2 linked regions of the Homo sapiens genome follow. The protein of the gene in region 1 purifies or fractionates together with the protein of each later gene. This does not show direct contact. Each region holds a gene or a part of one and is shown on either strand. Other genes may lie near its edges. The genes, in order: KIR3DL1 and FAM114A2.

Evidence for each region.
Region 2: the proteins of KIR3DL1 (region 1) and FAM114A2 purify together in Homo sapiens (affinity purification with mass spectrometry; 3 studies listed by BioGRID and IntAct, with this or other methods). This does not show direct contact.

Annotation. Positions count from the first base shown.
Region 1 is NC_000019.10:54,826,239-54,830,160, forward strand, and holds part of KIR3DL1 (killer cell immunoglobulin-like receptor 3DL1 isoform 1 precursor), read left to right. Parts: intron 1-3,122; coding exon 3,123-3,227; intron 3,228-3,689; coding exon 3,690-3,742; intron 3,743-3,860; coding exon 3,861-3,922. UniProt on the Homo sapiens protein: Receptor on natural killer (NK) cells for HLA Bw4 allele. Inhibits the activity of NK cells thus preventing cell lysis.
Region 2 is NC_000005.10:153,990,152-153,994,073, reverse strand, and holds part of FAM114A2 (protein FAM114A2), read left to right. Parts: intron 1-963; coding exon 964-1,098; 3' UTR 1,099-3,922.

The sequences.
Region 1 (3,922 bases):
AGAAAATGAGTGCACAAGTGGACCAATAAATGAATGATCCATTGGGAAGCATCTGTGCATGAAATCTATTTGTTTGTTCGTTCATTTATTTATTGAGACAGAGTCTCCCTCTGTCTTCCAGGCTACAGTGCAGTGTCACGATCTTGGCTCACTGCAACCTGCGTCTCCTGGATCCAAGTGATTCTCCTGCCTCACCCTCTCGAGTAGCTGGGATTACAGGCAACTGCCACCATGCCCGGCTAATTCTTTTTGTATATTTTTTGTAGAGAGGATGTTTCACCATGTTGGCCAAGCTTGTCTGAAACTCCCAACCTCAAGTGATCCGACCATCTCAGCAACCCAAAGTACTGGGATTACAGGCGTGAGCCACTTTGCCCAGCCAGAATTCAAAATAAATAATAGATAATGCTGAGTGTATAATTTTGGGTGACAGAGAAGGTCTCACTAATCAGATATTTGTGACATTAATGAAAAACACGGATTGAACCCCTGAAAGATTGGCGGAAGGATTTTCCACACACAGCTGTCAGCCGTGAAGGCAGAAAGCTGAAAACAATCTGATGTGGAAGGAAGAGGCTCTGCCTGAAATGCTGGGAATGAGGTGGGGAGAATGACAAGACGACTGTGGAGAGACGGAGAGCACACTGGGTACACAGGAAACTAAGGAGCAACAAGGAGTGTGTGTTTGACACTCACAGCCATTGGATTCACCTCGGGGTAGCCAGGAATCCCTACATGATTAATAGTGACTGACATGAAAATAAGGGAGGCCCAGGTGCGTAACTGGAATCTAGGAGACAGTGGAAAAGGCAATTGCCGCCCCACTGGTGAAATGTGGTGCTGATTTAGACCCTAAGTGGATGAAGCAGATGGATATAAGCTATGTTTGGGAGGTAGAATCATTTGCAGGGAGGGCTTGCTGGGTTTGAGTTTCCTAGTTGTTTAATCCTTGCTAAATTAATTTCTTTCTGAGATTTATTCCTCCTACACATAAATCAATACCTGGCAAAGGAGTGACAGATATATGAGGGGTGGTGGAAATGAAGGGACCTATTATAGCATAGTATACAAGTCTGTGAACGGTGGCTCACTCCTGTAACCCAGCACTGCAGGAGGCTAAGGCCAGTGGATTCCAAGAAGTCAGGAGTTCGAGACCAGCCTGGCCAACATGGAGAAACCCTATCTCTACATGGTGAAACCCTATCTCTCCTAAAAATACAAAAATTAGCCGAGCATGGTGGTGCATCCCTGTAATCCCAGCTCCTGCTCTGGAGGATGAAGCAGGAGAATGACTTCAACCCAGGAGGTGGAGGTTGCAGTGAGTGGAGATCGCATCACTGCACTCCAGCCTGGGTGACACAAGGAGACTCCATCTCAAAAAATAAAAATAAGAAATGCATAAATATAATAAAACACACACGAATGACAAAGGCACCTGAATTCCCATCATCATTTTTCTATTTCTCTATAATTACTTCTTTGATCCTTTATCTTATCCATTAGGCAATCAGCCTAAAACCTCTTCCGTATTTGGCTTTCTGTGAGCATGAGATCATATAGAAAATGTGAAAGCCCGCTGAATCCTCCAGCACAAATCCTGGAATAGAGAAAGTGCTCTGGTCATCACAAAAAAAACTTGCCCCCTCACCCAAATCCCCCATCTCACCCCTACTTCCAATCACCTGTGGAAATACAGATAGATCATGGGGAGGTAAATGCTAATACTCCTTGGAGTGAGTCCAGATCTTGGAATCAGAGATCAGTGCCAGCACTAGCTCCTGCTCCCCTTTCCTACTAATTCACAGGAGGACAGGTGGTATTGAAGCAATAGATAGTCGAGGGGGTGGTCCTTCCCCCAGCCTCTGAGGTAGAACAGCAGCCTAACATGTGTCTCCCGAGATCACAAAGAGTAGCACATTTCACACGGGCTTCAACACTATTTTCTGGCTGTTTGACATAAGAGAATTCTACTTCGCTTTTTTTATATTGATTTCACTTTTGTTTCCTTTTCTTGGAGAATGCAAGTTGTTTAACTCAAGAATGCCGTGGATGTAGAAATCCTAAAGCACATTCGCTGTGTATCAATCCCAGTCCAGTCTTCCCAGAGAAGACTCTAAACACCTCCTGGACTGCACCTGGGCCTATGCCAATTCCTATCACTCACCGTCACTCCAGGGAGACAGAACACACAGAGAATACGTTACATAGGCAGGTTCATTACTAACAGATAAGCAGCGAGTGACAACAGAAGCCTACATTTCAATGTGAGCCAGTTCCCCAAGGCTCAGAAAAGCTGCTCGAGACATGTGGAGTCACCCCATTTGCAGTGTAGCTGGGGGAAGCCAGAAAGCAGCCCAGCCTGGGTTTTGTACCCTGGAGCCACAGGAAGCACTCAGCTAAAGCACTGCATGACGTCCTCCTCCAGGAAGAACAGGAAGACAGCCCAGGCTGTTCTGGGACAATCCTCCTGATCTCAGGACTTTGCTGTCTTAGTCCATTTTTGTTGCTCTAAAGGAACACTTGAGCCTGGGTAACTTCTAAAGAAGAGATTGGTTTGCCTCACCGTTCTGCAGGCTGTACTGGAAGCATGGCACCAGCATCTATTTCTTATGATGGCCTCAGGCCGCTCCCACTCTGGCAGAAGGGAAGGAGGGTCTGTCTGTGCAGAGACCACAGAGATCACACGGCAAGAGAGGGAGCAAGGGGGAGGGGGAGCAATGGAGCTTCCAAGCTCTTTTTAACAACCAGCTCTCCAGGAACTAATAGAGAGGGAACTTGCTAACCCCGTCTCCTTGGGACAGCATTGATCTGTTCATGATGGATCCACCTCCATGACCCAAACACCTCCCAAGAGGCCCAACCTCCCACACTGGGGGTTAAATTTCAATGTGAGGTTTGAAGGGGTCAAACATCTCAACTAAAGTAGTTGTATCCTCAGCACGTTCCATGGTTACTATGAGAGCTATAACTGAGAAAGCAGGAGGAAGCTAGATCTCCCGCCATCTGGGTGCTTGTCCGAAAGAGATGCTGTAAGTGGTTACCTGTCAATCAAGAAATGCAAGACAATTCATATAGAGAAACTGCTATGATTAGCTTCTTACTGGTGTCTCCTCTTCTTCCAGGTAACCCCAGACACCTGCACATTCTGATTGGGACCTCAGTGGTCATCATCCTCTTCATCCTCCTCCTCTTCTTTCTCCTTCATCTCTGGTGCTCCAACAAAAAAAGTAAGTCTCACGGGGCACAGGCCAGAGAGCTCAGGGCCATGTGGGGAAGCAGGATGGGAGCACACAGCTGTGTGTTCCTCACTGGCAGGATGGTCCCTGGCCCAAGACAGGAGCCACAGAGGCAGGACTTTCTAGAGAGAGCACCAGACTCCCTGCCCCTGCCTTCAGCTCACAGACCGTTGCCTGATTCTGAACTGTATCCTCATGTCCCCTGCAGCCACTCACATCCAGGAGAAGGTTCCATGACAGGCAGAAAGTGGGAGACAGAATCAATGGGATGGGAACTCAGAGCTATTCATGGGATGGGTCCTTGAGCTCAGAGAGATAGAATGTCTGAGTCTGCTGTTGGCAACTGAGGGACCTCAGGCACCTATGGCCTCCCCCTGTTTGTTGGTATCTGCTTATGAAATGAGGACCCAGAAGTGCCCTCCGAGCTCTTTTGTTGACTTCCGTCTCCTACAGATGCTGCTGTAATGGACCAAGAGCCTGCAGGGAACAGAACAGCCAACAGCGAGGTAGGTGCTCCTCGGCCCAGCCTCGTGGCTAGTGTTATTCCCAAACAGTCCTGGAAAACGTGAGCACCCTCCCTCACTCAGCATTTCCCTCCCTCACTCAGCATTTCCCTCTCTCCAGGACTCTGATGAACAAGACCCTGAGGAGGTGACATACGCACAGTTGGATCACTGCGTTTTCAC
Region 2 (3,922 bases), on another chromosome or scaffold:
TTGTGATTTAGTAAATGGCAGAGTGGTGCAGTAGAAAAGACTTTGTAAACCAGGAGCCCCGTGTTGCCCTGGATCTTCCTTGATTTGTTGTGTGACTCTGACAAACTTCGTTATTTTCATGTGCAACATAAGAGATTTAACTAGACGATATCTGAGGTCCCTTTTGTGTGGGAAATTGAGTATTAAATGTCACACTGAATTTTAAATAGTACTTGCCATTGATAAATTTTAAAAAGGTAATATCACTTGATATGGGCTCCCTATTATTTTTAGTGGATTTTTTTTTTGGATACAGATTTGAAACACTCTTGTCTTCGAAATTATACATTTTTATCTTAATGAGCTCTCTGTTGATATTCTTTTGAAAGGTGAGGGCTTTTCAGTATAAATGAAGTCCAGCAAACTGAGGGTAATGATTCTCTAACACTTCTGAAAAATGTTGTTCAAGATAGAAATATATCTATACTGTCATCTTTGAAAGCAGTATATGTGTGAAAGATGTTTATGTGTGTGAGCAGTTATTGTGCTCACTGATCGCATTGAGTCCATGGAAAAAGAGCTATCATAATGGGCTAGAAATTCTATAGGTGTAGGATTTATAGCCTTCTGAAAGCCTCTTTCAGTAATTGACCACAATATTGTGACAGAATCTACCCTACTCAATAAAGGAATAAATAAGCTTTGAATGCCAAGTCTGACCATGTTGCCAAAGAAAAGCTACCATGTCTGATGGGCAAGTTGTACAAAATGCTGACATTCTCTTTTGGTGCTCATATCATCTTAAGAGCTAAATTCTTCTCCCTATAATAGAGTTTACCAAAATGGCCAAGTCACTGCTCTTACTTGCCAGGCTATGAATTCAGTTAGATTACAAAAATTAATCTGTTCCCCTGTTGCCTTACAGTATATCTTCTCTTTTAAATAACTAATATTTTCTTTTTCTTGTTTTTTCAATCCTGGCAGGCATCAAACAGTGCCTCCTACATCCAGGACGCCTTTCAGCTACTCTTACCTGTGCTAGAGATCTCTCTCATTGAGAACAAGATTGAATCACACAGACATGAGCTGCAGGGCCAGAAACCTTTGTTAGAACATTGAAGAATGGAGACGTTTTGACCTGGGACTTGTGACGGCCAAGGAATGCCACCTTATTCTGGCTACTCCTGCAGAAATGAAGGAGTGGGGTTATTTTAGTATATAAAAATTCAGGCAGGAGAGATGGTTTAAAGAGGAAGATTGTTGCCTTCAGTGTTTGATTGAAGTATTCAGGTTCTCACAGTATTCTTTCCAGTTGTTGTAATTCATAAATTATTTGAAAAGAAACTTTTGTAGAAAGTCCAAGAATAATAACTCTAGATAAAGATTAGTGGGACACTCAGGCAAAAATGTTGGTCTTTCTTTGACATGTTGCAAAATGTTATCAATTTTGTCATGGATATAATTTGCAGCCCATGGATATAACTGGTTGATAAGCCAGAGAAAAATAATTTAGTGTTCTAAAATTCATGGCATGTGTGGTTTATTAATGCCATGTACTTTCTCCTTTCTGGAATAAAATCTATGGCTTTAAGAAAACTGAGCATATGTAAACTCTGTGATGATTACCCTTTATCACATGAATTCTTGGAAATAGAAAGTTTCATCTGCTTTTTTAAATTCTTAGTAGATATTTGGCATTGAGGAGAAACTTGTAGACTATTATAGCCATGTGAATTAACTGTAGCAAAGTGCCCTTTTTCTTCAAATTGCTCCCCCTCCCCAGGATGACACACTTCATGTCATAGCTGAACCCTACTCTACTGGATTCAAGGCCAGTAAATGCAATTTAGAGAAGCAGTTTTATGTTTGCAGATATTCTGAGTCTCTTCAGGATGTGTTTCGTGTCTACCATATATGCAGGATAAATTCTTTAACAGCAAACTCCAAAGGAATGTTGAAGCTGTTTTAGCAATGAGGATTTTTTTGTTTGAGTGTTGAAGTGGGCCATAGTCCTTTAGAAATGATGTTCATTTATGATAGGATTTAACTTCTAAGGCATAGTTTATTTTTTCCTCTTTCCTTTTTGTTTGTTTTAATGTATTCTTTAGCATGTTTTTGATATAACTTTTATCCTCCAGATCTTAAGCTTTCTTTTGCTCTCTTCAGCAATTTAAGAGACTATTAAGCTGTCGTCTTCCTAAAAGCTATTTTGGTATCCACTCTTTTTAAAAAAATTCTCCAACTTTGTGGTTTTTTAATGATTAAGGTAATTTGTTAGCTCTGCCCCTCATCTTCTAAAACCTTTGTAATAAAATGTATTAATCATGTTATTTGATCCTTTCATTTACTTTTGTAAACACGAGCCCTAATATCTTACTTAGACCAAAAAAAAAAAAAAAAAATAGCAAAGCAAAGCCATAACATAGATTAGTATAAAGACTGTTTCTACGTAATCTTCTTTGGGGCAGGAGTCAGTTAGTAAGCAAGGAAGAGAAATAAATTTGGTTTAAAAAGGTATACCAACAGCACTACAATGTTACTCTGCCTATATTCTGTCTTAATATGATCAGAAAGTTTTTGAATATTCCTTTTTAAAGACAAATTTCACCCTTTCCAGCTTGAATATTTCTGAAGTTTCAGAAAAACAGTTGCCTTCTGGTTACAAAGGCTGGTGTCACCAGTTCTGAATTGTTGCCTCAAGCTTGGTTGATGTGTCTGAACCTGTATCCCTTGAGGGCAAAGTTTAGAAACTGGTCACTCTGCCTACTGTCTGTTCAGCCTCTTGTACAATGGCAGTTTGGCAGCTTTAAATCCTTAACCTAGAAATGTATTTAAGGTTTTTCTTTCAAGAAATGGGGTATACATATGAAGGAGAGAGTAACAACTCTTTTTATACACCTATTCAGATTTCAGCCCTGAATTTGGCAAATTTTAGATTAGGTCTCACATAAGGTAAATATGACTCACTAACTCTTTTTTTCTCATCTTCCCCACCCCCCCATATATATTTATTTATTTTAATGGAGTTAGGGACCACTAGTGAAATGATGAAAGGCCCAATTCTGAGTAACAATTGTCTACTCTTCACATAAAATATACTGAAAAAGAATTAAGATTCCTTGATCCAGTAGACATAGAGAAACATAAACATTCATGACAGATGAGTAGGTAAATTCAGGGATCACTTTGGAACTTGCTGGATTATGGTGATGGTTTTTGGATAGTATGTGCTTCATTATTTTATTTGGGGTAGTTACAGTGTTTTAGTTTTTTGTTAACAGCTACACTTTTGGTACTATTTTCCTTTTAAATTTTTGGTGTCTAAGATTTACCACTAATTACTAATATATGCCTTTCCAATTCACTTAAAACCTTAATAAGTGAAATGTTCAGGTATTGCTAGGGTAAATGTGTCTTTTCCTACTATTGAGATTTTAAAAGGCTGTGATTAAGAGAGACTTTATTAATTTGATCTGAAAGAAGTAGAAACCTCTATGAAACAATTTTTATTTTCCTTTGCATAATACCTTAGAAATGTGTTAAGGACAAGCTATATTTTCCTTACTTGCTTTTGATAGTTTTTTTTTTTTTTTTTAAGCATAGATATCCAGGTTGGCAGGCCTCTGAAATGTGAAATTGTAATTTTTATAGATGGCATTACTATGAATCTGAAATCAGTGCTAGGTGTACAAATGTGAATTTTTCAATCCTGTAATCAAAGAACAAGATCTTGTGGGTTCCTACTGCTGAAAAAGGATGCTTTCTTTTGTACTTGTTTTTAGTGAAAGACCTTTTTGAGGGAGAGCTATTTTATAGGTAGTTGCTATTGATATCTCCATTTGAGAAATAGACATTTTTCTGTATTTCTAGAGGTGTTCTGAATTTTAAACCTGAATTCTTCAGTTTAGAAAACCCAGAATAAAATTATACCCACAGTGGGCAC